Regions from separate parts of the Homo sapiens genome. Here region 2 is linked to region 1. The links come from fine-mapping of genetic effects on gene expression. A gene starts in region 1. The other region holds a variant in brackets. All regions are shown on one strand. Distances are between the middles of the regions.

Evidence for each region.
Region 2: its variant is fine-mapped to the expression of STX12 in whole blood (TOPMed, PIP 0.98).

What each region holds. Positions count from the first base shown.
Region 1 is chr1:27,763,814-27,780,360 of GRCh38, reverse strand. STX12 (syntaxin 12) reads right to left here and starts at 7,142. Exons shown (of 9, transcript NM_177424.3): 1 at 6,936-7,142. The coding sequence starts at 7,053. RefSeq lists enhancers at 6,305-6,805, 7,003-7,152, 6,806-7,306, 7,273-7,422 and a silencer at 6,683-6,892.
Region 2 is chr1:27,152,495-27,169,041 of GRCh38, reverse strand. It overlaps LOC102723760 (a long non-coding RNA gene), which reads right to left and starts at 11,481. Exons shown (of 3, transcript XR_426674.4): 1 at 11,416-11,481; 2 at 10,518-10,623; 3 at 8,574-8,753. It overlaps SLC9A1 (solute carrier family 9 member A1), which reads left to right and starts at 13,917. Exons shown (of 12, transcript NM_003047.5): 1 at 13,917-15,059. The coding sequence starts at 14,708. RefSeq lists an enhancer at 12,523-13,022 and a silencer at 13,968-14,197. The variant A/G (reference allele first, on the strand shown) is at 8,734.

The DNA of each region.
Region 1 (16,547 bases):
GGTGCACGCCTGTAATCCCAGCTACTGGGGAGGCTGAGGCAGGAGAATTGCTTGAATCTGGGAGGCGGAAGTTGCAATGAGCCTGATCGCCCCACTGCACTCCAGCCTGGGAAACAGAGCAAGACTCCGTCTCAAAAAAAAAAAAAAAAAACAAGCAAAGAAAAACTTAATTGCTATCAGCAGGACTTATGCACAACTGAGAGGATTTGTATAATTTAGATAGCCAATGAGGTAGGGAGAGAAAAGATACTAAAAAAAGGAGGAACCAAAGGGCGGACGCAGTGACTCATGCTTGTAATCCCAGCACTTTGGGAGGCCAAGGCGGGCGGATCACCTGAGGTCAGGAGTTCAAGACTAGCCTGACCAACATGGAGAAACCCTGTGTCTACTAAAAATACAAAATTAGCCGGGCGTGGTGGTACACGCCTGTAATCCCAGCTACTCGGGAGGCTGAGGCTGGAGGATCGCTTGAACCTGGGAGGCAGAGGTTGTGGTGAGCCGAGATCGCACCACTGCATTGCAGCCTGGGCTGTTAACAACAGCGAAACTCTCTTTCTCTAAAAAAAAAAAGGAGGAACCAAATGAGCAAAATATAAACTGAAAGATAGAGTTGAGAAACATAAAGAAAATAGCCTTCCTAGCAAAGAGTAAGGAAGAGTAGAAAATATGGCTAATTTGGGTTAAGATCGCAGGGAGTGAAAGCAAGGTGAAATATTAAGATCTGATTCAGGCCAGGCACGGTGGCTCATGCCTGTAATCCCAGCACTTTCGGAGGCCGAGGCAGGTGGATCATCTGAGGTCAGGAGTTCGAGACCAGCCTGGCTAACATGGTGAAACCCTGTCTCTATAAAAATACAAAAATTAGCTGGGCGTGGTGGCAGGTCCTGTAATCCCAGCAACTCGGGAGGCTGAGGCAGGAGAACTGCTTGAACCCAGGAGGTGGATGTTACAGTGAGCCAAGATTGCGCCATGGCACTCCAGCCTGGGCGACAGAGTGAGACTTGGCTCAAAAAAAAACAAAAAAAAACAAAAACAAAAAAAACCATCTGATTCAATAGACAACAGAGAGCCACTTTAGGCTCTTGAGGAAGTGAGCAGTATAATAAAAACAGGACTTTAGACATAGTGCTGATAGCACCATCAGTATAAACTAGAATGGGGCAAGACCATAATCAGAGACACTATGAATATGCTGTTGAAATACAGATGTTGAGCTGATGAATACTTAAGAGGATAGCAAAGAAACATAAAAAATAAGGGGCAAACATGAAAATAACTTTGAAAGTGGAACCCCAAGGATTTCATAATAATCAATTTTAAATGTTCAACTCTTCTTGCTTTGGGAGACTGAGGTGGGAGGATGGTTTGAGGTCAGGAATTCAAGACCAGCCTGGGCAACACAGCGAGACCCCCGTCTCTAAAAAACTTTTACAACTTGCCAGGCGCAGTGGCATATGCCTGTAGTCCTAGCTATTTGGGAGACTCAAGTAAGAGGATCGCTAAAGCCCAAGAGTTTGAGGTTACAGTGGACTACGATTGCACACTGCATTCCAGCCTGGGTGACAGAGTGAGACCTCCACTCTTCTTATTTTGTTAGTAAACAAGATCACATCAATTAGCAACATAAAGAACAGAAATGCTGTTCTTTTTTTTTTTTTTTTCCTGAGATGGAATCTCGCTCTGTTGCCCAGGCTGGAGTGCAGTGGAGCGATCTTGGTCTTGGTTTACTGCAACCTGCACCTCCCCAGTTCAGGCGATTCTCCTACCTCAGCCTCCCGAGCAGCTAGGACTACAGTCGCCTGCCATCACACCCGGCTTACTTTTTGATTTTTAGTAGAGGCAGGGTTTCGCCATGTTGGCCAGGCTGGTCTCGAATGCCTGACCTCAGGTGATCCGATCGCCTCGGCCTCCCAAAGTGCTGGGATTACAGGCGTGAGACACCTCGCCCAGTCAGAAATGCTGTTCTTTAATCCCTTCAGAGTTAACTTTGAGGCTAATAGGTTTTCAGCTATATCTGCCTCAGCAATACTTGCCCAGACACTTTGTTCCACAGTAAGTCAAATATTTTTCTTCTGTACCCAACACATACTGATAATCACCACTTGTACCAGGCAGTCAACCTTAGCTGTACCTGTAACAACCCACGCAGTGAGCTGCCTTATCTCAGGCTGATGTGCTCAGCAATTCCAACCCCACATCTGTGGCTGAACAGTTTAGAAAAAAGAATAACTATGCTCTCAGACTTTTAATGGGTACAAGTCCTTGCAGGGCTGTATGGGTGTGTGGGTAATATATATGTCTGAGAGCTCATATTCTAAGGGTATATTTGGGTGTGCTGGCCTCTTGGAGAGGTTTGGGGATAGGCACTAGCTTGATAACTGAGTAGATGCAACGTCATCCCATCAATTTCAGATTTCCCATTTCTCACCAAACAATTCCAAAGGAAGAATTTCTTTCTTTTTTCTTTTTTTTTTGAGACTGAGTCTCGCTCTGTCATCCAGGCCAGAGTGCAGTGGCGCAATCTCGGCTCACCGCAACCTCCGCCTCCCGGATTCAAGCAATTCTCCTGCCTCAGCCTCCCAAGTAGCTGGGATTACAGGCGTGCACCATCACGCCTGGCTAATTTTTTTGTATTTTTAGTAAAGACAGGGTTTCACCATATTGGCCAGGCTGGTCTCAAACTCCTGACCTTGTGATCCGCCTGCCTCAGCCTCCCAAAGTGCTGGGATTACAGGCGTGAGTCACCGTGTCCGGCCTGGAAGAATCTCAACTCACACTGCCTAGGGTCATAGGATATGGTATGTACTACACAGTACAAGGGGAAAGAGGCAGGAAGAGTTCCAAAATGGTAGAAATGCCTCATTCATTCAAATCAATTTGATACAATTTATTATGCATCAAGATCCTATATAATGTGATCCCTGGTTACCTCTCTGGCCTCTTTTCCTATTCTGCCTCCCTTTTCTAACGGTACTCCAGCCAAACTAGCCTCCTTGCTCTTCTTTGAACACATCAAAGTCCTTGCTCTTGCCCTCTACCTAGAATGCCTTTCCCAGCTACTCACACAGCTCTTGCTCATTTCATTCACATGTCTACTCACTCAAATGTCAGCTCCTCAGAGATGCCTTCCTTGATCAACTAAAATAATGCACCCACCCTCCCTCTTCCCTGACTCTCTACCCACTTACCCTGCTTTTTCTTCATAGCATTTATTATTACTTGACATTATTTATATGTGTATGTACGTATGTGTGTATACATACTCCCCCCGCACACAGAAACACACATATACACACAATCAGGGGAGGGATTTTATCTCTTGTTCTGCTTCACCCCAGCACACAGCAGGTGCTCCAGGAATATTTGTTGCATAGTGGATCAATGAATCTTTCATATGTTTGGGACTGAGATAAGTACTGGAAATATAAAGATGAATAAGTCATGTCCCTTGACTCAAAGGAGCTAACAATCTGGCAGAGGAGATGAACACACCACGAGAAGAGAAAGCACCACGGCTTCAGGTATTTCCCCCACAGAGTGTCCTCTGGAGAGTGAAAAAACAAGTTATTTGCATACTTGTAAACCTGAAGTGTTAACTGCTATAGCACTGTTATTGATTTATTTATTTTTAATTTATTTATTTAGAGACAAAGTATTGATCTGCCACCCAGGCTGCAGTACAGTGGCATAATCACAGCTCACTGCAGCCTCCAACTCCTGGGCTCAAGAGATTCTCCAGCCTCAGCCTCCTGAGTAGCTAGGACTACAGGCACATGCTACCATGTCTGGCTAATTTTTAACTTTTTTTTTGTAGAGATGGGGTCTCACTATGTTGTCCAGGCTAGTGTCAAACTCCTGGCCTCAAGTAATCCTCCCTCTTTGGCCTCCTAAAGTGCTGGGATTACAGGTGTGAGCCACTGAGCACAGCCCAGAACTGTAATATTAATAAAAAGTAATAAAAAGACAAATTGCTGGTCATAAGAGACCTAGTTTCAAATTCAGATATTGTCATTTGTTAGCAGGGCAACTATTTAACCTTTCTTAGTTTGTTTCCTAATACATAACATGGAAATGATACTGGTGCTTCAGAGTTGTTATAAAATAAGATAATGTATGTAAAGCACTTTTCATACTGCCTGGAACACAGTATGTACTCAAATGTTAGCTATTAATATTACTAACAGTTGACTTAAATGATCCCCTGAGGCCCAATGCCCAATCAATAGCTAAATCTTACCAATTCTATCACCAAGGAAACCTCTCCTATCCTTTCCTTTCTTTTCATTTTCACAGCCCTAACTGGTATCTCTGATTCCAGTCTCTCCCTTTGAATTCAATTCGCACTTTCCTAAATAACTAAATCCAAGCCCCTTAGCTTAGCATTTAACATCCTTCATGTTTGGGCCACAATTTACCTTTCAATCCTTTTTTCCCACTACTTTCTGGAATCCACCACTCTAGCCAAATTAAATTACTCTTCTAGATATACTCTATGCTTCCCCACTATGATGCCTGTTCATTTTATTCCCTCCTGGAATGCTCTTCTCCTCTTTACCTTCGAAGGTCCAAATCTTTCCATCCTCTTTCCAGACATAACTCAAATGCCATAATGCCTTCTCAATTAAAAACAATCTCTCTCTTCCCAGAATACCTGCATGTTATTTATATGTCTTCTATAGCACCAATCCCTTTCAACTTTATATTTTGGTTATGAACTCTGCAGGTTCCCTGTTGAAAGATCCATGCCAGTTCTTATACTTACTACATACTCAAATAAATATATGTTGAAGGCCAGGCATGATGATTCATGCCTGTAATCCTGGCCTATTCGGAGGCCAAGGTGGGTGGATCACTTGAGCACAGGAGTTCAAGACCAGACTGGACAACATGGTGAAACTCCATCTCTACAAAAAATATAAAAATTAGCCGGGCGTGGTGGTGCACACCTGTAGTCCCAGCTACTTGTAGGGCTGAGGCAGGAGGACTGCTTGAGCCAGGGAGGTTGAGGCTGCAGTGAGCTGAGATCATGCCACTGCATACCAGCCTGGGTGACAGAGTGAGACCCTGTCTCAAAATAAAAATTTAAATTTAAATTTAAAACTGTATGTCGGATCTACCTTTGGGAGTATTCTGGTTTTATATATATATAAAATACACACGAAGATGGATAGATGGATACATGTTGAATGAATATTTCGCAAATAGATATTAAAATTAGATTTAGCTTCAACAAGAAAATTTCAGCCTTGAACTAGAATTTTCTGATCTAACCTGTATTACAGCTCCTTCACAAAAGGAAACTGGAACAAACAGTACTATACTTTCTAACCAGTGGTCATATTAATTTTTTTTACTTCTGGATTTTAACAGGCCACATATTCTTCCTTTCACTTCCAGAGTCTCAATCCCTTTTGATCAGAAACTTTCTACTTCTCAAATTCTACAATATACATTTAGATTTAAAAGCAAAGTGAGCCTGGGCAACATAGTGAGACCCCATCCCTACAAAAAATTTAAAAATTAGCCTGGCACGGTAGATGCATCCTTGTAGTCCTTGCTACTCAGCAAGCTGATCAGGAATTCAAGGTTATAGTGAGCTAGGATTGTACCACTTCACTCAGATCACTGCATTCTGCCTGGGTGACAGAAGTAGACTCTGTCTCGAAAAAATAAATTAAAAATATTTTAAATCAAAAAAATTAGGCTAGGCACAGTGGCTCACGCCTGTAATCCCAGCACTTTGGGAGGCTAAAGTGGGAGAAGTGCTTGTGCCCAGGGGTTTGAGACCAGCCTGGCCAACATAGCAAGACTTCATCTCTACAAAAAAGAAAAATTTTTAAAAGTTTAAAAACGAAAGCAAAGTGACACTCTTTAAAATATAGAATATAATTGTAATTCAGGACTAACTAGTTCTACCTATTAACAGAGTACGCCAAGCTCACAAAACAATAATAAACAACAAGGATGATGACCACCATTCTTTCCAAGTAAAGCTGCTGCTGATCTCCTGTTTATAAGGCTCCAAGATGATTTTCAAGCACAAGAAACACCCTGTATTTGACTCATTCAGCTACAGTTTCACTCAGACCCTAATGGGGAGGAGGGAGTTTTAAGACAAGCAATAGCATTCTGAATTCCACCAACAACTCTACCATGCCTTACTTGCTATGTGGTTGTGGCTAAGTGTCTTAGCTTCCCTGTGTACCAGATTTGTTCAAGAGCAGCTAAGTAGGGAAGGAAAACAAAAGCCTCATCTGCCTGAAATCCAAAAATACACCCCAATTATTTGTTACAAAAGACAAAATAATGTAAATTGAAATGCTGTTGGTGAATTCTCTTTATTAAAATGAAGTCATCCCACCTTTCAAATACCAGTCATTGTGTCTGATTTCCGAATTCATTACAGGAAGAACTGTGTATGAAGTCACCCAAACACATGCACTCTCCACTTCCCTTAATTGAAAGTTGCTGATTTCCGAGGAGCCAGGGGCTGAGCAGAATGTAAACCTAAAGGCTAAATCAGTAAACAACCCCATCCAAACTGGTCTAAGAGGAAAGCGAGGTGGGTGGGGAGGAAGGTGGGTGACAGGAGAAACTCGGCTGACCACTGCGCCAAGTCAACGCACTCACAGCTCTCGAGGTGACACACACTCCCCTTCCCACCCTCGGGCTGTCAAGTCGGCTGTTTTGGTCCCAGCACCGTGGGGGCAGAACTCCAGAGAAGCAGCTCAAGCTTCAGCTGGGGCCGGGGACCCTCGGGCAACCCGGGCCTGACAGATTGGGGGATGGCAGCCCACCGCCCCCAGGGTGGACAGCCCGAGACAGCCCCAGGTGTGGCCTCGGCCGTAGCCCCAGCCGGGCCCTGCGTCCCGGCAGCCTCACCCAGGCCTGTCCCCGGGACAGCTCCCGCCCCCCAGCTCGGTACCCCGGCTCACTGGCTTGGCTGATCCGCTGGATGTTGCCGCTGCACGTCTGGATGATGCTGCTGAAGTCCCGGAGCTGGGGCCCCGAGGGCCCCGGGTTCCGGTACATGTCTAAGGGACCGTATGACATGACGAGGAGCTGAGACCTGCTCGCTCTACACCGCTCTCCTACCGGAAGCAGCCGCCAGCCGGGACCCGCAGGCTGACGGAGAAACTGGGAAGAGCAAGGGCGGGGAAGGAGCTAAGGCTGCGTGCGCACTAGCCCCGCCCTCACGCGGCGCGCACGCGTCCTCCCCGCCCCGGTCCAAAGTGCGCAGGCGCCGCTGGGACTGGAGCTGGGACTGGAGCTGGGACTGTAGCTTAGAGACAGGACTCCCCGAGGCTTGGGGATGCAGGGCGGGGAGATGACGTCACCTAGTTGGGGCTGAGATTGGATGAGCTTGGGTGGAGGTGTTGTTTCTCGCCAGGGCACAGTGACAAGAGGCAAGAATTTTCGATTTGCATAAAACTGTACCAGATGATCTCAGCCCTTACATCCTATTCTGTTCTGAGAATTCAGGCCCAAATATGGGAGAATTCAACGTTGAAACTCAGACCCGGAACCAAATCGTAACCCGAAATTCCTCTCTACTTCCATCCCCAGGGCTTTGGTAGTGTTTGGGGTTTCCAAACCACTTTCATTTCTCCCTCCACCCCTCTTCTAATCTAAACAATAAAATAATGTTTATTGAGCACATACTATGTGAATCCTCACCGCAATTCACTTGTTCATAAGATTTTTCACAGCAGGGGACGATGCTCTATCTATATTTTTATCATTAGAATAGATAACGGAGAGTCGGTTTTTTAAATGTTGAAGTAAAGTAATTCATCAAAGTAAGCATTATTATTTTCCCTCTTACCGATGAGAAAATTAAGACCAGCGAGGTTAGTTCGCCTTGCTGAAATTTGACTGCAAAACCCAAACGCTAAGCTGACTCTCTCCTCACCTCGCTACTTCTCTAAAATTCATTCTCGTCTAAATCTCTCCCAAATAGCTCGTTCATCTATATCCCAAGCCGGGATATCTTGGAGAACTAGATTCCTAAAATTTAAAAATCGTTCCCTTAAGTAATTTGGAATGCATGACCTCAATGTTCCCACAGAAAACTGCATTTTTGTAAGCCTATGTTAAAAGGAAAGACATAGGATTTTGGTTTGGGAGGAGATCAAGATAGTGAGAAGTGAAGGGGAACTGGCTGCGTTTCCTGTGTTCTACACCCCACCCCACCCCACCCCAGCCTGCTTTGTAGTCTTTGGAAAATGCAAAGACAGAAAGCTGCTTGCCTGGATGAAAGGAGACCCAAAGTGAATGAGCCTGTATATGGCCTTAGGATTTTTTCTTTATTTTATTTTTTTTGAGACAGGGTCCCGCTCTGTCACGCAGGTTGGAGTGCAGTGGCGCGATCTCTGCTCACTGCATCCTCCTTCTCCTGGGCTCAGGAGGTCCTACCACCTAACCTCTGAGTAGCTAGGATTACAGGCGTGCGCCACCACGCCCAGCTAATTTTTATATTTTTTGTAGTGTTGGGGTTTGGCCATGTTGTCCAGGCTGGTCTCAAACTCCTGGGCTCAAGCAATCCACCCACCAGCCTTAGGATTTTTTAAGGGTGACTATCTCTATTTTTCGTTGGAGAATTTATGAGAGCATTTTTTTTCCCTGTCTCTAGAAAGAGACGGATGACATTTGGGGACTCTTATTTTGGTTATTTTATTTTATTTTATTTTTGAGACAGAATCTTGCTCTGTTGCCCAGGCTGGAGTGCAATGGCGCAATCTCGGCTCAATGCAACCTCCGCCTCCTGGGTTCAAGCGATTCTCCTGCCTCAGCCTCCCGAGTAGCTGGGATTACAGGCGTGTACCACCACGCCCGGGTACTTTTTGTATTTTTAGTAGAGATGGGGTTTGACCATGTTGGCCAGGCTGGTCTCGAACTCCTGACCTCAGGTGATCCACCCGCCTCGGCTTCCCAAAGTGTTGGGATTACAGGCGTGAGCCACCGCACCCAGCCTGTTTTGGTTATTATTATAAAACCTTACCGTTTCTTAGAATCTGTAGTTTTATGTCAAATCTTAAGCAAGTCATGTAAATTGCACTTTTTTACCTATATAATAGTACTGATGATTTTTTTCATTTACATTTGACACTATTTAAAGTGAAGTTCAGTAAAGATATTTTTCTTTTAGGAATTAAAAATATTGTTTTCTTTCTCCATGTAAAATAAAAGTGGTTTTTAGGCTGGGCGCGGTGGCTCACAACTGGAATTCCAGCACTTTGGGAGGCTGAGGCAGGCTGATCATTGCTTGAGCTCAGGAGTTCGAGACCAGCCTGGGCAAAATGGCAAAACCCTATCTCTACCAAAAATACAAAAATTAGCTGGGCATAGTGGCCTGAGCCTGTAGTCCCAGCTACTCGGGAGGCTGAGGCAGGAGTGTAGCTTAAGCCAGGGAGGCAGAGGTTGCAGTGAGCATCTCTCATAGCAGTAAATCTGTGCCTTGCAAATACTGGATGTCAAACAAACATTTATTGAATTAACACATGAATAATAAAAATAATAATTTTATCATTGCTTAAATGCCTGTTAGGTGCCAGGCAGTATGAACACATTTTGTGTACGTTATCAGTAATCTCCAAGATAAAGCCCATCTGATAAAGACCACCTGTAGTCAGACAAAGTTAAGTTTATTAACTTGCTGCTGCAAGGGAAACTGCACACCAAAAGAATCATGGAGCATGTCACAAAACACAGGAAGACAGTGAGTTATTCCAGGATTTGGGGGAAAGAAATGTAGATAAATTTTTAAAGAAGCAGTGTTTTGATAGCCCCCAAACACACCAGGCTATGTGTAAAGGGATTATCATCAGGCCCCAGCTAACAAGATCCTGTTTCCTTGGAAACCATGATGCCAAGATAAATGTGGAATGTTGTGTCTGGAAACCCCTTATCTGAAGCTCTGCACCTGCGTTAGAAATTGAGGCTGCTCTTCTGCATCAAAGTAACTGATCCTCCAGGTAAGAGTGATATATTCCATTCTTACTGATAATTTGAGCAACAAATTTTCTAAAAATCTATGGCTTTAGAGAAAATGTCTCTCAGCTCTACATACTTTTGTTAATTAACGAAAGTAGTCTTCATGGGTTTGCACCCATCAAGGCGATATTAGCTCCTTGGTACGGATAAAGAAACTAGAGATTCTGGGTACTTGCCTAATGTCATACAGCTGTTAAGTGACAGAGCCAGGATTCCCATGCACCTTCTGACCCAGCAATTCTACTCCTAACTATATACCCAACTATGCGTGTTCCAAAAATCAGGTATAGTTCATAGGAGCATTTTTAGGACCAAGCAGCATTTTTCTATACTTATTTACTTTTTGTTTTTTTTTTTCGGAGACAGGCTGGAGTGCAGTGGCGTGATCTCGACTCACTGCAGCCTCAATCTCCCTGGCTCAAGCCATCTTCCTACCTCAGGCCTCCAAGTAGCTGGGACTACAGGCACGCACCACCACACCTGGCTAATTTTTGTATTTTTTTGTTGAGATGTGGTCTTGCCATGTTGCCCAGGCTGGTCTCAAACTCCTGGGCTCAAGCAATTCACCCACCTCGGCCTCCCAAAGTGCTGGGATTACAGGAGTGAGCTATGACACCCAGCCCTTACATTTAATTTTTATTGAGTTATAATTGATATACAATCGAATGCACAGATAGTAAGTGTTCAGCTCAATGGATTTTGACACTTGTACACATCCATGTAACTGCCACACCCAAATCAAGAGATAAAACATTTTTATCATCACCCCAGAAAGTTTCCTTGACTTATGCTCCTTTTTAATCCATTTCCCTCATCACTGGAAGTTACTTACTGATTTTTTTTTTTTTTTGAGATGGAGTCTCACTCTGTCGCCCAGGCTGGAGTGCAGTGGCACGATCTTGGCTCACTGCAACCTCCACCTCGTGATTCAAGCAATTCTCCTGCCTCATCCTCCCAAGTAGCTGTGAATATGGGCATGCGCCACCATGTCCAGCTAATTTGTTTTGTATTTTTAGTGGAGACAGGGTTTCACCATGTTAGTCAGGCTGGTCTCGAATGATCCACCCGCCTCGGCCTCTCAAATGATCCGCCTGGCTCAGCCTCTCAAAGTGCTGGGATTACAGGCATGAGCCACACTGCACCTGGACTTTACTTTCTGATTTTTGTCACTACAGATTAGCTTTGTCTGCTCTTGGACTTCATACTTTATATATTCTTTAGTGTTTGGCTTTTTTCAATTAACACAATGTTTTTGAGATTTATCCATGATGTCACATATATCAGTAGTTTGGTCTTTTTTTATTACTCATTAGTATTTCCTCATATAAATATACTTACAGTTTGATTATCCATTCTCTTATTGATGGATGTTTGCATTGTTTCCAATTTGGTGTTATTATGAAGTTCATAGCAGTATTTATTTTTACTAGTTCCAAACTGTAAACAACTCGAATATCCATCAACAGAGGTTTGTATAAACAGATATTATAAAGCACAAAAATAAATGGCCTACTGCTGTGTGAACAACATAGGTGACCTCTTCCCAACAATGCATAGCTAAAGAAGCCAGACACAAATTAGCTAGGCACAGTGGTGCACACCTGTAGTCCTAGCTACCTGAGAGATCAAGGTGAGAGGATCCTTGAGGCCAGGAGGTCAAGGCTGCAGTGAGCTATGATTGCACCACTGCACTCCAGCCTGGGCGACACAGCGAGACCCTGTCTCTTAAAAAAAAAAAAAAAAAAAAAAAAAAAAAGGAGAAGAGGAAGCTAGACATAAAATGAGTACAATCTGTATCATTTCATCTTTATTAAGTTCAAAACTGGCCAAATTAAATCTATGTTATTAAAAGTCAGAATAGGGCCAAGTGCAGTGGCTCATGTCTGCAATCCCAGCACTTTGGGAGGCCAAAAGGATGGATCACTTGAGCTCAGGAGATCAAGACTACCCTGGACAACATGGTGAAACCCTGTCTCTACAAAAAATACAAAAATTAGCTGGGCATGGTGGCACAGGCCTGTAATCCCAGCTACTCGGGAGGCTGAGGTGGGAGGATGGCTTGCACCCGGGAGGCAGAGGTTGCAATAAGCCAAGATCATGAAGTATCACTATTACTATCAGTATGGTGAGCTTCCTGGGGACTGGTAGGGAGGAGTTAATGGGGAAATTCACTTAGGTTGCAAATAATACTGTATTAAAATTAGCACTCATCATATATTGCTGGTGGGGATGCAAAATGGTACAGTCACTTTGGAAAATAGTTTTACAGTCTCGTATACAGTTAAGAATAAATTTACCATACAACCCAGCAATTCAGCAGCTCCACTGCTATATATTTACCCAAGAATAATAAAAACACATTTCTATTAAAAGACCTGTATGCAAATGTTTACGGCAGCTTTATTCGTAATAACCAAAAACTGGAAGCAGCTCAAGTGTCCATCAACTGCTGAAGAGATAAACTGTGGTACATCCATACAGTGGAAAACTATTCAGCTATAAAAAGAAACTACTGAGACATGGAATAAATTACTGAGACATGCAAAAACACGGATGAATCTCAAACACATACGCTAAGTGAAAAAAGTCAGACGTAAAAGGCCATATCCTATATGATTTTATTTATATGACATTCTCTTTTTTTTTTGAGATGGAGTTTCACTCTTGTCGCCCAGGCTGGAGTGCAATGGCATAATCTCGGCTCACGGCAACCTCTGCCTCCCAAGCTCAAGCGATTCTCCTGCCTCAGCCTCCCGAGTAGCTGGGATTACAGGCATGTGCCACCATGCCTGGCTCATTTTGTATTTTTAGTAGAGATGGGGTTTCGCCATGTTGGTCAGGCTGGTCTTCAACTCCTGGCCTCACGTGATCCGCCCACCTTGGCCTCCCAAAGTGCTGGGATTATAGGCGTGAGCCACCGCACCTGGCTACATGACATTCTTGAAAAGGCAAAGCTATAGGAATATAAATCAGATTAGTGGTTGCATAAAGGCTGGTGTGGAGGGAAGGGCACCAAAGGACTCAAGGGAACTTTTGGGGTTGATGAATATGTTCCATGTCTTGATTATGGTGGTGATTACACAGCTGCATATACTTGTCAAAACTCATTGTGCACTGAGGGTTATTTTTGTGTATGCCAATTTTATACACACACACAGAGACACACATACTTAAATGACACTCTAGAAATCAACGCAATAAAGTGGCATATATGAGGTGGGTAATGTGGAGTTGAAAAAGAGGTATAAAAGTTGTGGGTTGCAATAATGGTCTGACGGCCTAGAAGTGACATAGGACTAAAGTGACTTCGGAAGCAAAAAAACAAGTAAACATACATGTTCATTCTAATTTATGCCTCTATCACCTTCCTTCTTAGGAAACATAAAATGTTGATTCTGTAGAAGTCATAGATGATAATAGCTTACAAAATTGAGTGCATACTATGTACCAAGCACTGTTCTAAAGACTTCTACATGTAGCTGGGCATAGTGGCTTGAGCCTGTAGTCCCAGCTTCTCGAGAAGCTGAGGTAGGAAGATTGCTTGAGTCTAAGAGTTCGAGGCTGCAGTGAACTGTGATCACGCCACTGCTCTCTAGTTTGAGCAACAGGGTGAGATCTGAGTCTTTTTTTTTTTTTTTTTTTGAGACAGAGTCTCCCTCTGTCACCAGGCTGGAGTGCAGTGGTGCGATCTGGGCTCACTGCAACCTCCGACTCTCTGGTTCAAGCGATTCTCCTGCCTCAGGTTCCTGAGTAGCTGGGATCACAGGCACATGCCACCACGTCCAGCTAATTTTTGTATTTTTAGTAGAGATGGGGTTTCACCATGTTGGCCAGGATGGTCTCAATCTCCTGACCTCGTGATCCGCCTGCCTCAGCCTCCTAAAGTGCTGGGATTACAGGCGTGAAACGCCGTGCCTGGCTGAGATCTGATTCTGAAAAAAAAAAAAAAAAAAAAGACTTCTATATGTGTTATTTAATCCTCACAACAACTCTAAGGTAAGTAGAGACAGGAAGTCTCTACTTCAGGCAGCCTGACATCATAGCACCACACAGTCTCACTTTTCAAATAGGGTTGATAATTTGCTGGAAGTACAGCCTGGCAAGCCCTGGTAGTTGGAGAAGTCATGGATTCCAGTAATAGCTAAGAAGTATGAACTACTTTCCCCCAAAAGGTAATTTTTATTGCTATCTTCAAAATCCAGAGGTTCACACAGTCGTTACTTGATCCTATTGGCCAAAAGTCAATGTGGTAGCTAGCCTCCAAGGTGGACCCTCAATATCATCTTCTGGTATTAATGCACCTGGACAGTCTCTTCCCACATTGAAGTGTCAGTAACTTGACCCCTGTAACCAATAGGATATTGCAGAAATGATGGAGTGTGATGTCTGAAGGTAGGACATAAAGGACATTACAGCTTGCTCTCTCCGATCTGGTTTAGTTCCAAAACCCATTCCCTCTGTGGCAGGTTGTATTTTATAAGATGGTCAGCACAATAGCCTCCACCTCATATGCTCTTCTACTTTGTTGTCCTCTGTCCAGTGAAACGGCTGTATATGCAAAGTGAACTCCAAATGCCGAAGGAGCTGAGGAGCCAAAGGAGGAGGCAGACAAATCCAATTTGTCAGTATTGGTTGATTGACTGAGGGAACTTACACACAGAAGCATAGTCTTGGGCAGCCACAAGACAGGTAGATTTCTGTGCTGTTACTCCCCAGACCCAAAGCTTATATACCATAGTGAATAGGTATACATGTTCTAGGAAGCCAGTTAATTAAAGGCAATCCTCCAGGACAGGCAAAAGTGCCATGTGCATCATAGACTATAATTTGTGCAATTAACATCAAGGCTGACATGTTCTTACACCAGGGACAGTAAATAAAATAGCAACCAGCTAATTTTTGTATTTTTAGTAGAGATGGGGTTTCGCCGTGTTGGCCAGGCTGGTCTTGAACTCCTGACCTCGTGATCTGCCCACCTCGGCCTCCCAAAGTACTGGGATTACAGGCATGAGCCACCGCTCCTGGCCTGTTTATACTATTTTCTTACCCTACAGTGGTTTTAAAGGCTGAGTAAATGAGTCAATTAAGATAATTCACACAATAATTGTAGTCATAAATATAGCCTACAAAATAGGCGGGGCACGGTGGCTCACGCCTGTAATCCCAGTACTTTGGGAGGCCGAGGTAGGTGGATTGCTTGAGGCCAGGAGTTCGAGACCAGCCTGGCCAACATGGTGAAACCCTGTCTCTACTAAAAATAGAAAAATTAGCCAGCTGTGGTGGCGGGTGCCTGTAGTCCCAGCTACTCGAGAAGCTAAGGCAGGAGAATCACTTGAATCTGGGAGGCGGAAGTTGCAGTGAGCTGAGATTGCACCACTGCCCTCCAGCCTGGGTGACAGAGCGAGACTCCATCTCAAAAAACCAAAAAAACAAAAAACAAAAAAACAAAAACAGGCCTGGCACAGTGGCTCATGGCTGAAATCCTAGCACTTTGGGAGGCCAAGGCAGGTGGATCACCTGAGGTCAGAAGTTCAAGACCAGCCTGGCCAACATGGCATAACCCTGTCTCTACTAAAAATACAAAAATTAGCTGAGCATGGCGGCGCATGCCTATAATCCCAGCTACTCAGGAGGGTGAGGCACGATAATCCCTTGAACCCAGCAGGCAGAGGTTGCAGTGAGCCGAGATCGCACCACTGCACTTGAGCCTGGGTGACAGAGTGAGAGTCTGTCTCAAAAAAAAAAAAAAAAAAAACAAAGAAAAAAAACAAAACAAAAACAACCATAGCCTACAAAATAAAAGTATCTTCAACTTATTCTGAGAAAATTAGCTTTGAGTTTATAGAATGACCAGGATGTAACAGTGAGTGTCTGAAAGGCACTTCTCATTTTAAAACCTGCTGGCTCTAGGGTTTCAAAGGGATGCATTCCTCCCCTTCTGAGATGACATTTCAAAAAGCTTTCACTCATACTTCATGCAGATTCATTCTGTATTATATTTTGAATAATAATAATAAAAATCAAGGAACATTTGGCTGAGTGAGGTGGCTCACACTTGGGTAATCCCAGCTCTTTGGGAGGCCAAGGCGAGAGGATCACTTGAGTCCAGGAGTTCAAGACCAGTCTGGGCAACATACTGAAACCTCATCTCTACAAAAAATAAACAAAATTAGCCAGGAATGGTGGTACATGCCTGTAGTCCAAACTACTTGGAAGGCTGAGGTGGAAGGATCAATTGAGCCTGGGAGGTCAAAGGGGCAGTGAGCTGAGATCGCACCACTGTACTCTGGCCTAAGTGACAGAGACTGTCTCAAAAAATTTTTTTTGGCCAGGCACAGTGGCTCACACCTGTAATCCCAGCACTTTGGGAGGCTGAGGCGGGCGTATTACCTGAGGTCAGGAGTTCGACACCAGCCTGGCCACCATGGTGAAATCCCGTCTCTACTAAAAATACAAAAAAATTAGCTGAATGTGTTGGTGCGCCACCTGTAGTTCCAGCTACTTGGGAGGCTGAGGCTGGAGAATCACTTGATCCCAGAAGGCAGAGGTTGCAG
Region 2 (16,547 bases), 610 kb after region 1:
AATAGCAATAGCTAACAGTTATATAGGACTTACCAGGAGCCAGCCAGTCATTGTTTTATTTTATTTTATTTTATTTTTTTTAGACAGAGTCTCATTTTGTTGCCTAGGCTGGAGTGCAGTAGCATGATCTTGACTCACTGCAAACTCTACCTCCCAGGCTCAAGCAATCCTTCTGCCCCAGCCTCCTGAGTAGCTGGGACCACAGGTGTACACCACCACACTTGGCTAATTTTTTCTGTTTTTAGTAGAGATGGGGTTTCACCATGTTGCCCAGGCTGGTCTTGAACTCCTGAGTCCAAGCGATCTGCCTGCTTTGGCCTCCCAAAATGCTGGGATTACAGACAGGAGCCACTGTGCCCAGCCATTCATAAATAATAATAATTGCAGCAAGCACTTATGTAGGTACAATTCCAAACAGTTTACAGTTTACATTCATTAACTCATTTAATCCTTACAATATCCTTACAATATAGGTTCTACTATTATCCTCTTTTTTTTTTTTTTTTTTTTTAGAGACAGTCTTGCTCTGTTTCCCAGGCTGGAGTACAGTGGCACGATCTTGGCTGACTGCAACCTCTGCCTCCCAAGTTCAAGCAATTCTCCTGCCTCAGCCTCCCGAGTAGCTGGGACTACAGGCGCACACCACCACACCCGGCTATTTTTTTTTTTTTTTTTTTTCATATTTTGGTAGATATGGGGTTTCACCATGTTGCCCAGGCTGGTCTCGAACTTCTGAGCTCAAGCAATCCTCCCGCCTCAGCCTCCCAAAGTGCTAGGATTACAGACATGAGCCACCACGCCCAACCCCCTTACCCCATCTTTTAGATTAAGACACTGGGGTGCAGTGAAGTTAAATAACTTGCCAAAGGTCACATGACTAGACAGTGGTAGAGGCTGGAGACAGTGGCTCATGCCTGTAATCTCAGCACTTTGGGAGGTCGAGGAAGGAAGACTGCTTGAGCTCAGGAGTTTTAGGCCAGCCTGGGCAACATAACAAGGTCTCATCTCTACAAAAAATAAAACATTAAGGCTGGGCGTGGTGGCTCACGCCTGTAATCCCAGCACTTTGGAAGGCCGAGGCAGGTGGATCACCTAAGGTCAGGAGTTTGAGACCAGCCTGGCCAACATGGTGAAACCCCGTTTCCACTAAAAATACAAAATTATCCAGGCCTGTAGTACCAGCAATTCGGGTGGCTGAGGCAGGAGGATTGCTTGAACCCAGGAGGTCAAGGATGCACTGAGCCATGATTGTGCCACTGCCCAGCCTGGGCAATAGAGTGAGACCTCTCAAAAAAAAAAAAAAGAAAGAAAGAAAAGAAAAGAAATGATAGTGGTAGAGACAGCATTCGAATCCATACAGTTTGGATCCAAGTTAGCCCTATTAATCATTATGCTCTACTGCCTCAAATTTCTGCCATTGAGGAGCTTACAGTCTAGTGGGTCAACACAGGCAATAGAAATATACAGTACAGCCGGGCACGGTGGCTCACGCCTGTAATCCCACCACTTTGGGAGGCCGAGGCGGGTGGATCACCTGAGGTTGGGAGTTCGAGACCAGGCTTGGCCAACATGGTGAAACTCCTGTCTCTACTAAAAATATAAAAATTAGCCGGGCATGGTGGCGCACGCCTATAATCCTGGCTACTCGGGAGGCTGAGGCAGGAGAATCGCTTGAATCTGGGAGGTGGAGGTTGCAGTGAGCCAAGGTTAAGCCACTGCACTCCAACCTAGGCAACAGAGCGAGACTCCATCTCAAAAAAAAAATAGACTGGTCAGGGAATGCCTCACTGAGAGACATTTGTGCAAAGATAGCAAGGAAGTGAAGGAGGAAACCATGTAGCTATCTGGGGGAAACAGTAAGCTCAAAGGCTCTGAAAGGGGTAAACCTGGAGTATTTAAGGAATAAATAGGAAGGAAGCCAGGGTGGTTAACGTGGAGAGAAAAGGGAAGAGGAAGGAATAAAGGAGAGGAGGCCAGAGAGAGAGGTGGGAGTAGACTGGGTGGGGCTTCGTAGGTCATAATAAGGACCCCGAGGTGGGGGTCTGGCAGGGGATGACACCATCTGACTTAGGCTTTTAAAGGGATCCTTCTGGCTGCTTTGTTGAAACAATAATCTGGGTGGGGAAAATGGCACTGCTTGGACCAGAGTGGGCAATGGAGGTGGTCAGAAATGGATGGATTCTGGAAATATTTTGAAGATTGAATTGACACTATTTGTGGAGGATTGATATGACAGAAAGGAGCCAAGGATGACTCAAGTTTTTGGCCAGAGTAAGTGGGAAGATGGAGAGGCTATCTCTTGGATGGGGAAGACAGTGGGAGAAGCAGGTTTGGGGAGGGGTTGGAAAGGTCTGGAGTTCAGTTTTGGACATGCTGATTTTGAGATGCCTGTTGCACGACCAGGTAAAAATGTTGAATGTTCAGTTGGATGCAGGAGTCTGGAGTTTACAGTAGGGAACTGGGCTAGAGATAGAAATCTATGAGTTGTCCTCATATAGATGGGGCTTGAAATCATGAGAATAGATGAGGTCATCAGAGAAAAGAATGTAGACAGAGCAGTGAAAAGGCAAGAACCAAGCCCTGGGGCCCTCAGTATTTAGAGGTTGTGGCAGAGGGGGAAAAAGGAGAGAAGGAGGAGGAATCAACAAAGGGAAATTGAGAAGGAACAGCCAATGAAGTGGGAGGAAAGCCAGAAGGTTGCGGGGTCTCATAAGCTATTTGAAGAAAGTGTTCTCAGAAGGAGCAAGTGATTATATATGTTGAAGTCTGCTGATGGGGAAAGAAAGATGAGGATCGAGAAATGACCATATGATAGAACAACATGGAGGGTCACTGGCAACATTGACAAGGGCAGCTATTTATTTATGTATTTATATATTTATGTATTTATTTATTTATTGAGACAGAGTCTCACTCTGTCACCCAGGCTGGAGTGCAGTGGCACGATCTTGGTTCACTGCAATCTCCGCCTCCTGGATTCAAGCGATTCTCATGCCTCAGCCTCCAGAGTAGCTGGGATTACAGGTGCCTGCCACCACATCCAGCTAATTTTTGTATTTTTAGTAGAGACGGGGTTTCACTATGTTGGCCAGGCTGGTCTCGAGCTCCTGACTTCAGGTGATCCGCCCATCCTGGCTTTCCAAAGTGCTGGGATTACAGGCATGAGCCACTGCACCTGGCCTATTTTATTTATTTTATATATATATATATATATATATATTTTTTTTTTTTTTTTTTTTTTTTTTTAGAGATAGGAGTCTCCCTATTTGCCTAGGCTGGCCTCAAACTCCTGGGCTCAAGCGATCCTCCCACCTCAGTGTCCCAAAGTGCTGGGATTACCGGCATGAGCCACTGCACCTGGCCAAGAGCAGATTAGGGACAGCATATGAGAGGGCAAGCCCACGGATCAGTTGGAGACAATGGGAGAGAAAAACAATGCAGGCAATGTAGACAACTCTCTTAAGCATTTGGCAGTGCTGGGAGTGGGTGGGGGATGAAGAGATGTGTGTTAAAGTGTTAAGATAACACATTATACTTATGATAGATGTTGCCTGGGGCAGCAGGAAGGGAGAAAAGTGTAACTGATAGTTTAAAAGACTTTAAAATTTGATAAAAATTGTACAGATATCTGTAAAACACATCAAAAACGTACACACACACACATATAGGGCAGTTTTTTGTTTGTTTTTCGGTTTGTTTTTCTTTTTGTGATGGAGTCTCACTCTGACACCCAGGCTGGAGTGCAGTTGTGCGATCTCAGCTCACTGCAACCTCCACCTCCCAGGTTCAAGCAATTCTCATGTCTCAGCCTCCCGAGTAGCTGGGACTACAGGCAAGCACCACCACGCCTAGCTAATTTTTGTATTTTTAGTAGAGATGGAGTTTCAGCATGTTGGCCAAACTGGTCTTGAACTCCTGACCTCAGGTGATCTGTCTTCCTTGGCCTCCCAAAGTGCTGGGATTACAGGCGTGAGCCACAGCACCTGGCCAGTTTTTTTAGGAGATAGAGTCCTGCTATGTTGCCCAAGCTGGAGTGCAGTGGCATGATCATAGCTCACTGTAACCTTGAACTTCTGGGCTCTAAGTGATCCTCCCGCCTCAGCTTCCCAAGTAGTAGAGACTACAGGTGCATACCGCCATGCCTGGCTAATTTTGAAATTATTTTGCCAGGCACAGTGGCTCATGCCTGTAATCTCAGCACTTTGGGAGGCTGAGGCAGGAGGATTGCCTGAGTGCAGGAGCTTAAGATCAGCCTGGGCAACATAGCAAGACCTCATCTCTACTAAAAATAAAAATAAGAAAATTAGCTGGGCATGGTGGCATGCACCTGTAGTCTTAGTTACTCAGGAAGCTGGGGTGGGAGGATGGCTAGAGTCCAGGAGTTTGAGGCTACAGTGAGCTATAATCACACCACTACACTCTAGCCTGGGCGAGAGAGTGAGACCTTCTCAAAACACCACCACCACCACCAACAACAACAAATAAATAAATACATAAATTATTTTGTAGACACAGATTCTCCCTATGTTGCCTAGGCTGGTCTTGAACTCCTGGCCTCAAGTGATCCTCCCACCTCAGCCTTCTAAGGTGCTGGGATTACTGGAGTGAGCTACTGTGTCTGGCCAAAATATACATATATTATTGAAAGTAAATATAACAAACTGTTACAGCTGATAATTCTGAATTTGGATGTTTGCTATATTACCTTTATACTTTTAAATTTTCTTACAAATAATTAGGGGAAAAAAAGGTTTGTGGGCCAAATCGTGTGCAGGACTTTGAGTGCCATGCTGGGATGGGGTATGTGCCTGTCTAAACAGGGGATGAACATGGCTCAGACAGCTCTTCCTGAAAGCTGTGTAGGCTGAGGGTGGTGGCTCACGCCTGTAATCCCAGCACTTTGGGAGGCCGAGATGGGCAGATCACCTGAGGTCAGAAGTTCAAGACCAGCCTGATCAACATGGTGAAACCCCATCTCTACTAAAAATACAAAAAAATTAGCTGAGCGTGGTGGCAGGTGCTTGTTGTAATCCCAGCTACGCGGGAGGCTGAGACAGGAGAAGCCCTTGAACCCAAGAGGCGGAAGTTGCAGTGAGCAGTGAGCCGAGATTGTGCCACTGCAGCTGGGAGACAAGAGCAAAACTCCGTCTCAAAAAAAAAAAAAAAAAAGTCAATCCCGGACCCGTTCCCTCAGATCTGCTAAATCCTAACTTTTCCAGTACACACACACACACACACACACACACACACAGGATTCTGACAGTGTAGAATGGGGGCAAGTTTAGTGGAAGATGGTGGGTGAAGTTGATGGAGGTGCCTGTGGGACATCCAGTCAGTGAACATTAGGGTGTCAAGGTTGCCGATAGGTGTTTATCAAATCCATTATTGATTTTCCTCCAGCAGAAAGCACAGGGAGTTGCACATAGTAGGAACTCACTAAATGTTTATTGTAAAATTATGAACTTAGCTTAAAGGCAATTCGCTGGATCCTAAATTCCAACTCCTTACCAACCTCCGAACTCTCTTCTAGTTACCCAACATGTACATGCTTTTTCATGGTAGCTATCAGCCTGGAGAACTGGGAAAAGCCTGGACTTCAGAGTTAGGCAGACCTGCATCCAAACCTGGCTCCTCTTCTTCCCAGCTCTATGGCCTCAGACAAGCAATTCTCCTCTGGGAGTCTTGGTTTTCTCATGTGCAAATAATGCATTCTGTGATTCATTCACTCAGCAAATATTTATTGAGTACCAATATGCACTGGGCATTGTTCTACATGGTGGAGAAACAGTGATGGATGAGATAGACGTGGTCCCTGCCCTAGCTGAGCTCACATTCTGAAGGGAGAAAAATGCAGTAAAAAAAAAAAAAAAAAAAAAAGGTAATAGGCCGGGCGCGGTGGCTCACACCTGTAATCCTGGCACTTTGGGAGGCAGAGGCGGGTGGATCACGAGGTCAGGAGTTCGAGACCAGCCTGACCAACATGGTGAAACCCCGTCTCCACTAAAAATACAAAAATTAGGCCGGGTGCAGTGGCTCATGCCTGTAATCCCAGCACTTTGGGAGGCCGAGGCAGGTGGATTGCCTGAGGTCAGGAGTTCGAGACCAGCCTGGCCATGGTGAAACCCCGTCTTTATTAAAAATAAAAAAAAATTATCTGGGCATGGTGGCGGGTGCCTGTAATCCCAGCTACTAGGGAGGCTGAGGCGGGAGAATCACTTGAACCCAGGAGGCGGAGGTTGCAGTGAGCCAAGATTGCGCCATTGCACTCCAGCCTGGGCAACAAGAGCAAAACTCCGTCTCAAAAAAAAAAAAAAAAAAATTAGCTGGGCATGGTGGCGCACGCCTATAATCCCAGCTACTCAGGAGGCTGAAGCAGGAGAATTGCTTGAACCCAACAGGTGGAGGTTGCAGTGAGCCGAGATCATGCCATTGCACTCCAGCCTGGGTGACAGAGCAAGACTCTGTCTCAAAAAAAAAAAAAAAAGAATAAAAGTAACAAATAGGAGAATTATACTGTATGTGAGAAGGTGAAACATGCTATACAAAGAAGAAAAAAGGAGCAGGGGAAGGGGCTGGGTGGTAGTGGTGGTGGCCAGGCAGGGGAAGTGTCACTATTACATAGGATTATAACATAGTAGGCCATGTCAGGAAGCGAGATTCGCAGAAAGGCTTGAAGGAGGTCAGGTAACCAGCCATGTGGATATCTGGGGAAGAGTGTTCCAGGCAGAAGGAATAGCAAGTGCAAAGACCCTGAGGCAGAAGTGTGTCTGCCAGTGTTTGAGAAATAGAAGGAGGCAGTGGTGAAGTGAGTGCCGGGGAGACTGGAAGAAGGCTTTGCTGGGCTGTGACATTATGATGAAAGAAGGAGCGGCTGAGTACAATGGCTTACCCCTGTAATCCCAATACTTTGGGAGGCCCAGGCAAGAGAATCAATCAAGACCAGGGGTTTGAGACCAGCCTGGGCAATATAGTAAGACCCTATCCCTACCAAAAATATTTTTAAAAATTAGTCAGGTGTGGTGGCATGTACCTGTAGTCCAAGCTGCTCGGGAGGGCGAGGCTGGAGGATCGGTTGAGCCCAGGAGTTTGAGGTTGCTGTGAGCTATGATTGCACCATTGTACTCTAGCCTAGGTGACAGCAAGACTCTGTCTCAAAAAAAAAAAAAAACAAAAGAAGGAAATGAACCCAGTCACTGCGTGCTGACTGTGTACCAGGAACTATGCTTGACATACAGTGGCCTTTTCATCCTTACAATAAACCTTACAAAGCAAGTAATGTGACTCCACCCAGCTTTCATATACATGAACACAGCGAGAGACAGAAACAAGGTGTGACTTGCTCATAATGCGCAGCTAATAGGGGCTGAGCAGATTCTTTCCTAGGGCCATGCATTTTGTGCCATAAAACTCCAGGCACTTTTAGTGAAAGGATTCAAGGAGGGGATTGGGGAGCAGACATGGCTTAAGCAGGGGGAGATGCCACCCAGGGTCCAGGCTTCCTGAGGCTGTCCTGGATCTGCAGGGGAAGGGTCTGCAGAGACCTGGCCTCTCCGAGTCAAAAGCAGTGTGGGCCTGGAATGGTTAAAAAATGAGGACTTGGCCGGGTGTGGTAGCTCACGCCTGTAATCCCAGCACTTTTAGAGGCCGAAGCAGGTGGATCACCTGAGGTCAAGAGTTCGAGACCAGCCTGGCCAACATGGTGAAACCCTGTGTCTACAAAAAATACAAAAAATTAACTGGGCATGGTGGCAGGCGCCTGTAATCCCAGCTACTCGGGAGGCTGAGGCAGCAGAATCGCTTGAACCCAGGAGGCAGAGGTTGTAGTGAGCTGAGATCGCGCCATTGCACTGCAGCCTGGGCAACAAGAGTGAAACTCCATCTTAAAAAAACAAAAAACAAAAAACAAAAAATGACTTGCTCAAACATGGTTACAAATATTGCTATGTATTTTAACTGATTTTTTTTTTTCTTTTTTGAGATGAGAGTCTTGCTCTGTCGCCCAGGCTGGAGTGCAGTGGCGCGATCTCAGCTCACTGCAAGCTCCGCCTCCCGGGTTCACGCCATTCTCCTGCCTCAGCCTCCCGAGTAGCTGGGACTACAGGCGCCCGCCACCACGCCCGGCTAATTTTATGTATTTTTAGTAGAGACGGGGTTTCACCGTGTTAGCCAGAATGGTCTTGATCTCCTGACCTCGTGATCCGCCCACCTCAGCCTCCCAAAGTGCTGGGATTACAGGCGTGAGCCACCGCGCCTGGCCTTGACTGATTATTTTTAAGAAGACAAGGCTTTTAAGGCCGAAGCGGGCGGATCACGAGGTCAGGAGATCGAGACTATCCTGGCTAACACGGTGAAACCCCATCTCTACTAAAAATACAAAAAATTAGCCGGGCGTGGTGGCAGGTGCCTGTAGTCCCAGCTACTCGGGAGGCTGAGGCAGGAGAATGGCGTGAACCCGGGAGGCGGAGCTTGCAGTGAGCTGAGATTGCACCACTGAACTACAGCCAGGTCGACAGAGCGAGACTCAGTCTCAAAAAAAAAAAAAAAAAAAAAGAAGAGGAAGAAGAAGATAAGGCTTTTAACATACAATACACATCAATGTGATTTATTTACAAATATTAAATTCATAGCAGCTGGTCTGATGGTGGGACCCATCTCACGGATGTGAGGGTCTGTTTTCCAGCCTGTCAATTTTCTCTGTGACTGAAGGCAGAACTTCATGTGGTTCCCAACATC[A/G]AAAGTCTACTCTTGAGGTCCTCGGTGCATGTAAATAAATAGAATGATGGTAAATATATGTGGTACTTGCTGGGGGCAGTGGTAAATGCTTCGCATACATTGGCTAATATCTTCATGAGAGCCCCATGAGGTTGACACTATTGTTGTCCCCCCTTATGGAGGAAGAAGCTGTAGAACAGGCACTGATTTGCCCAGGGTCTCATGACTAGTGAGCGGTGGTGCCAGAGCACTGAAAGGAGACCATGTGGCTACCCATGTTCGGCAGTCCCAGCATTTAACTATCCATTATTCTACACTGCCTGCCCAGGCTGGGCCTTGGCCATCGGCTCTCCCATGTGGTTTCTCCCAAGGCCTGTTTCCTGATATTGTTCTGTTGTTATAACCTTCTCCAGGCCGTGGAGGATCTCAGGGCTGGCATTTCCTGGTTGTCCTGGGATCTACCACGTCCCAGACTGGCACCCAAAGACTCACTGAGGCCTGAGTGAGGGAGAATTAGAGAGTGGGGAGCACACCAGTGAACGTTGCCTTCAAGACTGGAAAGAACAGTAGGTCTTGGGCTTCTGGCCCCAGGGCACCTGTGGAAAGTCACTCCACCAGCCCCATCCTTTCCCTCTTTTCTTCTTTTTACACTGAACCTGTGATGTTTTAAAAGGGTGCTGGACTTAGGTGTTAGAAACCTGACTTAAGTCTTGGATCTGCTTCTTTTTTTAAATTTTAATTTAATTTTATTGGCTCACTGCAACCTCTGCCTCCCAGGTTCAAGTGATTCTCCTGCCTCAACCTCCTGAGTAGCTGGGATTACAGGTGCCTGCCACCACGCCCAGCTAATTTTTGTATTTTCAGTAGAGATGGGGTTTCACCATGTTGCCCAGGCTGGTCTTGAACCTCTGACTTCAAATGATCTGCCCGGCTCGGCCTCCTAAAGTGCTGGGATTACAGGTGTAAGCCACTGTGCCAGGCATGGATCTGCATCTTAATAGATGTGTGACCTTGGGCAAATAGCTTTATGTCTCTGGGCCTTTGTCTTTTCACCTGTAAAATGGGAATGAGAATAATAGCTACTCTTTGGCCAGATGCGGTGACTCACGCCTGTAATCCTAGCACTTTGGGAGGCCAAGGCAGGTGGATTACCTGAAGTCAGGAGTTCCTGACCAGCCTGGTCAACGTGGTGAAACCCCATCTCTACCAAAAATATAAAAATTAGCTGGGTGTGGTAGCAGCCGCTTGTAATCCCAGGTACTCGGGAGGCTGAGGCAGGAGAATCACTTGAACCTGAGAGGTGGAGATTGCAAGTGAGCCAAGATCGCCACTGCACTCCAGCCTGGGTGACAAGAGTGAAACTCTGTCTCAAAAGAAAAAAATAGAATAATAGGTACTGTTTTTTCTGAGACAGGGTCTCACTCTGTCACCCAGGCTGGAGTGCAGTGGTGTGATCTCAGCTCACTGCAAGCTCTGCCTCCTGGGTTCAAGTGATTCTCGTGCCTCAGCCTCCCAAGTAGCTGGGACTACAGGCACATGCCACCACACCCAGCTAATTTTTGCATTTTTAGTAGATACGGGGTTTCGCTGTGTTGGCCAGGCTGGTCACAAACTCTTGACCTCAGGTGATCCACCTGCCTCGACCTCCCAAAGTGCTGGGGTTACAGGCATGAGCCACCGCACCCAGCCTAGCATTTGGATCATTGATAAACCTGGGGCACTTGGTTGTGAACTCTAAAGGGCTGAACAATTGTGAGGCATTATTGTTATTATTCTGATCCTTGCTCGAAATGCTCTTTGGTTACTTTCATTATAGCTGATGTTCTCCTTTCATCTGCTCCCAGATGACACAAGTCCCCTGCCCTTCTCTGAAGTCTCTTTTGTCATTTCCCAGGTGGCTGGAATTTGTGCCTGGAGAATGTGAGGTACAGAGAACTCAGTTTAGGCATGGGATTATAAAAAAAGAGAGAGAGAGAGAGAACTCAGTTTAATGTTGCCACCTTCAGTTACTATCATATCACTTTATTAATTATTTTATTTTTATATTCATTTATTTATTTTGAGACAGAGTCTCCCTCTGTCACCCAGGGTGGAGTGCAGTGGCACAATCTCAGCTCACTGCAACCTCCGTCTCCTGGGTTCAGGGGATTCTCCCACCTCAGCCTCCCAAGTAGCTGGGACTATAGGTATGCTCCACCACGCCCAGCTAATTTTTGTATTTTTTGGTAGAGACAGGGTTTTGCCATGTTAGCCAGGCTGGTCTTGAACTCCTGACCTCAAGTGATCTGCCTGCCTCAGCCTCCCACAGTGCTGGAATTACAGGCGTGAACCACTGTGCCTGGCCTAATTAATTTTTAGAGATGGGTCTCACTATGTTTCCCAGGCTGGAGTGCAGTGGCTATTTCACAAGCACAATCATAGTGCATTACAGCCTCAAATTCCTGGGTTCAAGTGATTCTTCTGCCTCAGCCTCCCAAGTAGCTGGGACTACAGGTGCATGCCACTGCACCTGGATATTATTATTTTATTTTACTTATTTTTTTTAAAGACAGGGTCTCCCTATGTTGCCTAGGTTGGTCTTAAACTCCTGGCCTCAACTGATACTCCCATCTCAGGCTCCTGAGTTGCGGGGATTACAGGCATGAGCCACTGCTGCTAGCTTATTATTATTTTAATATATTTTTCCATGGAAGGATAGCATACCTAGAAAAAGGTGCACACATCTTGAGTCTTCAGTGAGTTATCACGAAACAACTACGTCGCTGTAACCTTTGTAGCTATCACCCAGTAAAGAAATAGAACATTACCAGCATTCTAGAAGCCCTCATTATGTCCACTTTATGCCCCCTCCCAATTCCTACCACCTCCTTCCTCCCTCTGGCTTATCTCTGTGTTGCCAGAGCCCAGCACAAAGCCCTGTCAAGAGGCCCAGTAAACATTTGTTAAACTAAATTGAATCTCAAGTACTTGTGATGTGACCTTGAGCTAGACACTTTGACTGTTTTGGCCTTAATGTACTCTTCTGCAAAACAGGGACAGCATTTCAGTGATTTCTATACCTCCCAACCCTAGTTGTATATCAGAGCCTTTGAAAAAAATACTTTGGCACTACCCTGAAGTAATTGAATCTAAATCTCTGACGGTGGGTCCCCGAAAATGATATTTTACAAAAGATGATGATGATGATGATTACTATGATTGACAGGGTCTCCCTTTGTTGCCCAGGCTAGAGTGCTGTGGTGGATCATAGTTCACTGTAGTCTCAAACTCCTAGGTTCAAATGATACTCCTGCCTCAGCCTCCCAAGCAGCTAGGACTACCAAGCACAGCTAATTTTATCAGACAATGGTATTTATTTTTATTTATTTATTTTTTTTTGAGACAGAGTCTCGCTCTGTTGCCCAGGCTGGAGTACAGTGGTGCAATCTTGACTTACTGCAACCTCCGCCTCCTGGGTTCAAGTGATTCTCTTGCCTCAGCCTCCTGACTAGCTGGGATTACAGGCATGTGCCACCACGCCCGGCTAATTTTTTTTTTTTTTTTTTTTTTTTGAGACGGAGTCTCGTTCTGTCGCCCAGGCGGGAGTGCTGTGGCGCGATCTCCGCTCACTGCAAGCTCCGCCTTCCGGGTTCACGCCATTCTCCTGCCTCAGCCTCCCGAGTAGCTGGGACTACAGGCGCCCGCCACTGCGCCCGGCTAATTTTTTGTATTTTTAGTAGAGACCGGGTTTCACCGTGGTCTCGATCTCCTGACCTCGTGATCCGCCCGCCTCGGCCTCCCAAAGTGCTGGGATTACAGGCGTCAGCCACTACGCCCGGCCTAGACAATGGTATTTTAAAAAAGCTTTCCAGTGATTCCATTGTACAGCCATGATCCCTTGAACCTCACCAATTTCAACCAAACTATAGGTTCAAATTTAAGTTCCACTACTTAAAGCATGCCACTGTTGTGGGTTGAATTGTGTCCCGGCAAAAGAAGTTGAAGTCCTAATGCCCAGTGCCTATGAAGATGGACTAATTAGGATGCAGTCTTTGAAGATGTTCAGGTTAAGATGAGGTAATTACGTTGGATTTCTAATCCAATGACTGGTGTCCTTATAAAAAGGGGAAATCTGGCTGGGGGTTGTGGCTTACCCCTGTAATCCCAGCACTTTGGGAGGCCGAGGCGGGTGGATCACCTGAGGTCAGGAGTTCGAGACCAGCCTGACCAACATGGTGAAACCCCATCTCTACTAAAAATACAAAAATTAGCTGGACGTGGTGGTGGGTGCCAGTAATCCCAGCTACTCTGGAGGCTGAGGCAGGAGAATCGCTTGAATCCAGGAGGCAGAGGTTGCATTGAGCTGAGATGGCGCCACCGCACTCCAGCCTGGGCAACAAGAGCCAGACTCTATCTCAAAAAAAATAAAAATAAAAATAAAGTGTGGGCGGGGAATCTGGACGCAGAGACAGAGACACCAGGAGAACTCCATGGAATACCAGATAGTCCTAACAAACCACTGGAAGGTAGGAGAAAGGCATGGGACAGATTCTCCCTCATAGCTCTCAGCTGAAACCAACCCTGCCAACACCTAGATCCGACCTCCAGCCTCCAGAACTGTGAGACAATCAATTTCTGTTGTTGCAGCCACCCAGTTTGGGGTGATACTTTGTTACGGCAGCCCTAGTAAGCAATACAACTACTTGCATAGTAGCCAGGGGACTCTCTTCACCTGTTTCCTCATCTGTAAAAGTGGAATTGTAATAATGTGCCAGGGTGCATTCCAAATAGTTTACACGGATTGTCTCAGTCATTACATCATCCCTCTGACATAGTCACTATTACTGTCTCTACTTAACAGATGAGAAAGTTGTGAAACAGGTTAAGTAACTTGCTCAAGGTCACACGGTAACTAAATACATAAACTAATAATACATTCTTCACAGGATTATTCGAAAGCCCTTATGAGACTGCAGATGTGGACGTGAAATCGTTTTGTAAGTAGTCGGCATTTTACTCGCGTTAGTGAGGTTCTCTGTATATTCAGGACTTTTTTTTTTTTTTTTTTTTGTCATCTCTGACTCTCCTTCCTCTTCCTACGCGATACTTCTTTCCCTCGGCGACAGGGGCCGCTGCGCTGGGCGGGTGCCGACGGTCTCTCTAGCCCGCCGCACCGGCTGCTCGCTGGTGCCTATAAGTGACAGCGCCGGGCTCAGCTAGGCTTCAGTCTGCTGCCGCCGGGGCCGGGGCTAGGGTTAGTTCTGGAGCTGGACCAGGAGGAGCTGCAGCTGGGCCGGGGCGGAGCGCCGCGTCGCGCCAGGGCCGCGAGGAGGGGCGTGTTGCTGCTGGCCCACCGCGAGCCGCCCCCAGCCCGCGCCGAGGCGCCTTCCCGCCAGGCCGCCTGCCTTCCGCCTCTTTCCATTTCCCCGGAATCTCAGCCCGGCGCGCCTGGACCCCTGCCCCTCTCTGGGTGGAGAAGCTCCCGGCCGCTTCCCGGTTTCACTCCTTCTCAGCCTGGGCTCCCAGCCCCCTCTCTCCTTTTCCTGGACTGGCTCTCACCCCCTTCGGTCCCCTTCCTTTAGCTCAGGCTCCCTACCCCTTCCTTTAGCCCACAGCCCAGAGTCCCAGCTCCTCAGTCACTTTCCTCAGCCAAAGGTCCCAGCCTTCCTTCTTCCTTTCCTTTGCACTATCCCTATCCTGCCCCTTCCTCTATCCCTAGGGCTCAGTTTCCCACATCCGTCCTCCCCCTTCCCAGGCCCGGAGTTCCAGACCTTTTGGTCTCCTTTCGTGGTCGTTCCTGGGTCCTTGCCCCCTTTCCCCACTTTGGAGTTCCAGATTGCAAACCCAGCCTCCCTCCACCCCCAGAAAATTGCTTCCATGGAAATGCCTCTCTAAAACATGAACTTTTCCTAGAGACTACGCCAGTCTCTCTTCCCACTTGCTGACCCTTTGCTACCTATGTGCCCGGTTTTACTCTCATTTGGGTAAGGTCGAGGCTGGCTCTGGAAGCAGCACCATGGTTCTGCGGTCTGGCATCTGTGGCCTCTCTCCACATCGGATCTTCCCTTCCTTACTCGTGGTGGTTGCTTTGGTGGGGCTGCTGCCTGTTCTCAGGAGCCATGGCCTCCAGCTCAGCCCAACTGCCAGCACCATTCGAAGCTCAGAGCCACCACGAGAACGCTCGATTGGGGATGTCACCACCGCTCCACCGGAGGTCACCCCAGAGAGCCGCCCTGTTAATCATTCCGTCACTGATCATGGCATGAAGCCGCGCAAGGCCTTTCCAGTCCTGGGCATCGACTACACACACGTGCGCACCCCCTTCGAGATCTCCCTCTGGATCCTTCTGGCCTGCCTCATGAAGATAGGTAAGTCCCGTTTGCTCCGATGCTGCGGCCGCCACCAGACTGGTGAGCTTCTTGCCTCATCTCGCACCATTTGAGGCTGTCCAGGAGTAAGGATCTGAACTACCCCCATAAAGTAGGCAGTCTCCATCCTGCCACCTTGGTCCTTCTCAGGCTCCAGTTCTGTGGCTTCTGATCTGTGATCTGAGGCTTCCCAAGATTGGAGCCAGCACTGTGCACAGAAGAGAGCAGGATTAGAGAATGGGATGCCTCTGATCCTAGGTCCCTTCAGTAAGGCTTCCACGACTGGCAAGTCTCCTCTGGCTGGGCCAGACCCCCAGGGGAGCCAGGCACCCCGCTGTGTGTGAGACAGAAAGGAGTGTCTTCTGGCGAGTGGCACATTCTGCTCTGTCAACAGCAACCAGTGCAATTTATGACAGGCTTCACTGGAGCGTGTTCCAGGATGGAGTATATTTCTACTTGGCCTGCTTGAGGAGTTTAAGCATAGTGGAGACCTGGGCACAGGAAACTTACAAGTGTGGTGGAACACAGGGGATCCCCATATTCCCACCTTTCCTTCATCTCCAGAATGTTATCTGTCAGCTTTGCTTGTCCAGGCTAGTTAGGAGCCCCTGAGTCAATTTCCGGCCCAGGAATGCCATACTTTATAGAATCTGTGGGACAAGGGGCCCTGGAAATTTCTGAAGTCTGTTTTGGAAGTGGAGGGAGAGTAGAGGAGGTTGAGGCTTGGTCTGACCCCAGCTCACCCCCAGGTCGCTGCCTGGCTGTGTCTCAGGGTGCTGTCTGGCCTGCTGCTCAATCAAGTAGATGAGGTAGATGGGGGAGCCTAGGGATGTTCAGGCCTGAAGAGACTTTGAAACCTTCTTTTGGGGAGAAGGAAACAGACAACTTATTTGCTCTCAGAGTATTGGTCTCCCTGCTAGGCCTGAGCACTCTGTTCTGCTGAGTGATTGGGGGAGCTTACTGGAGCCTACATTGCCCAGAAGTCCCTGAAAGTGGTGTTCAGGGGGACTTTGACAACTGCCTTTGCATTTTCAGCTTGCCCCCAGCTGGCTGTGGAAGGCATGAGGTCCTGGGACTCTGCTGTCCCCTCTGCCTGAGATTTGGGTTTGGGAATTTGGCAGGAAACCTTCCAGCTCTCCCAAGGACATGCAGGAGCTGAGCGGTGCTGCCGGGCTGGTGTGAGGCAGGCTCTGGGACATGCAGCGGGAGGGAAGTGGTGCCTCTAATTTGACAGATCCAGGAGCTGGGTTCCTGGTGCAGGGCTCTTGTGCCAAGCTGGTCACAGTAGCAGAGCCTTACATGGAACTAAGCCATCAGCACCTATACCTTGATGGCAGTTAGCTTCCTGGAGAGAAATCAAGGACTGGACAAGGGGAACCATGTGTACTGATTCTGACATAAATGCATGACCTTGAATAGCTGAGGCCTTTTTCTGCAGGTCTCCCTCACCTGTGAAATGGTTAAGACTCTCAATTTGACCACACCAAT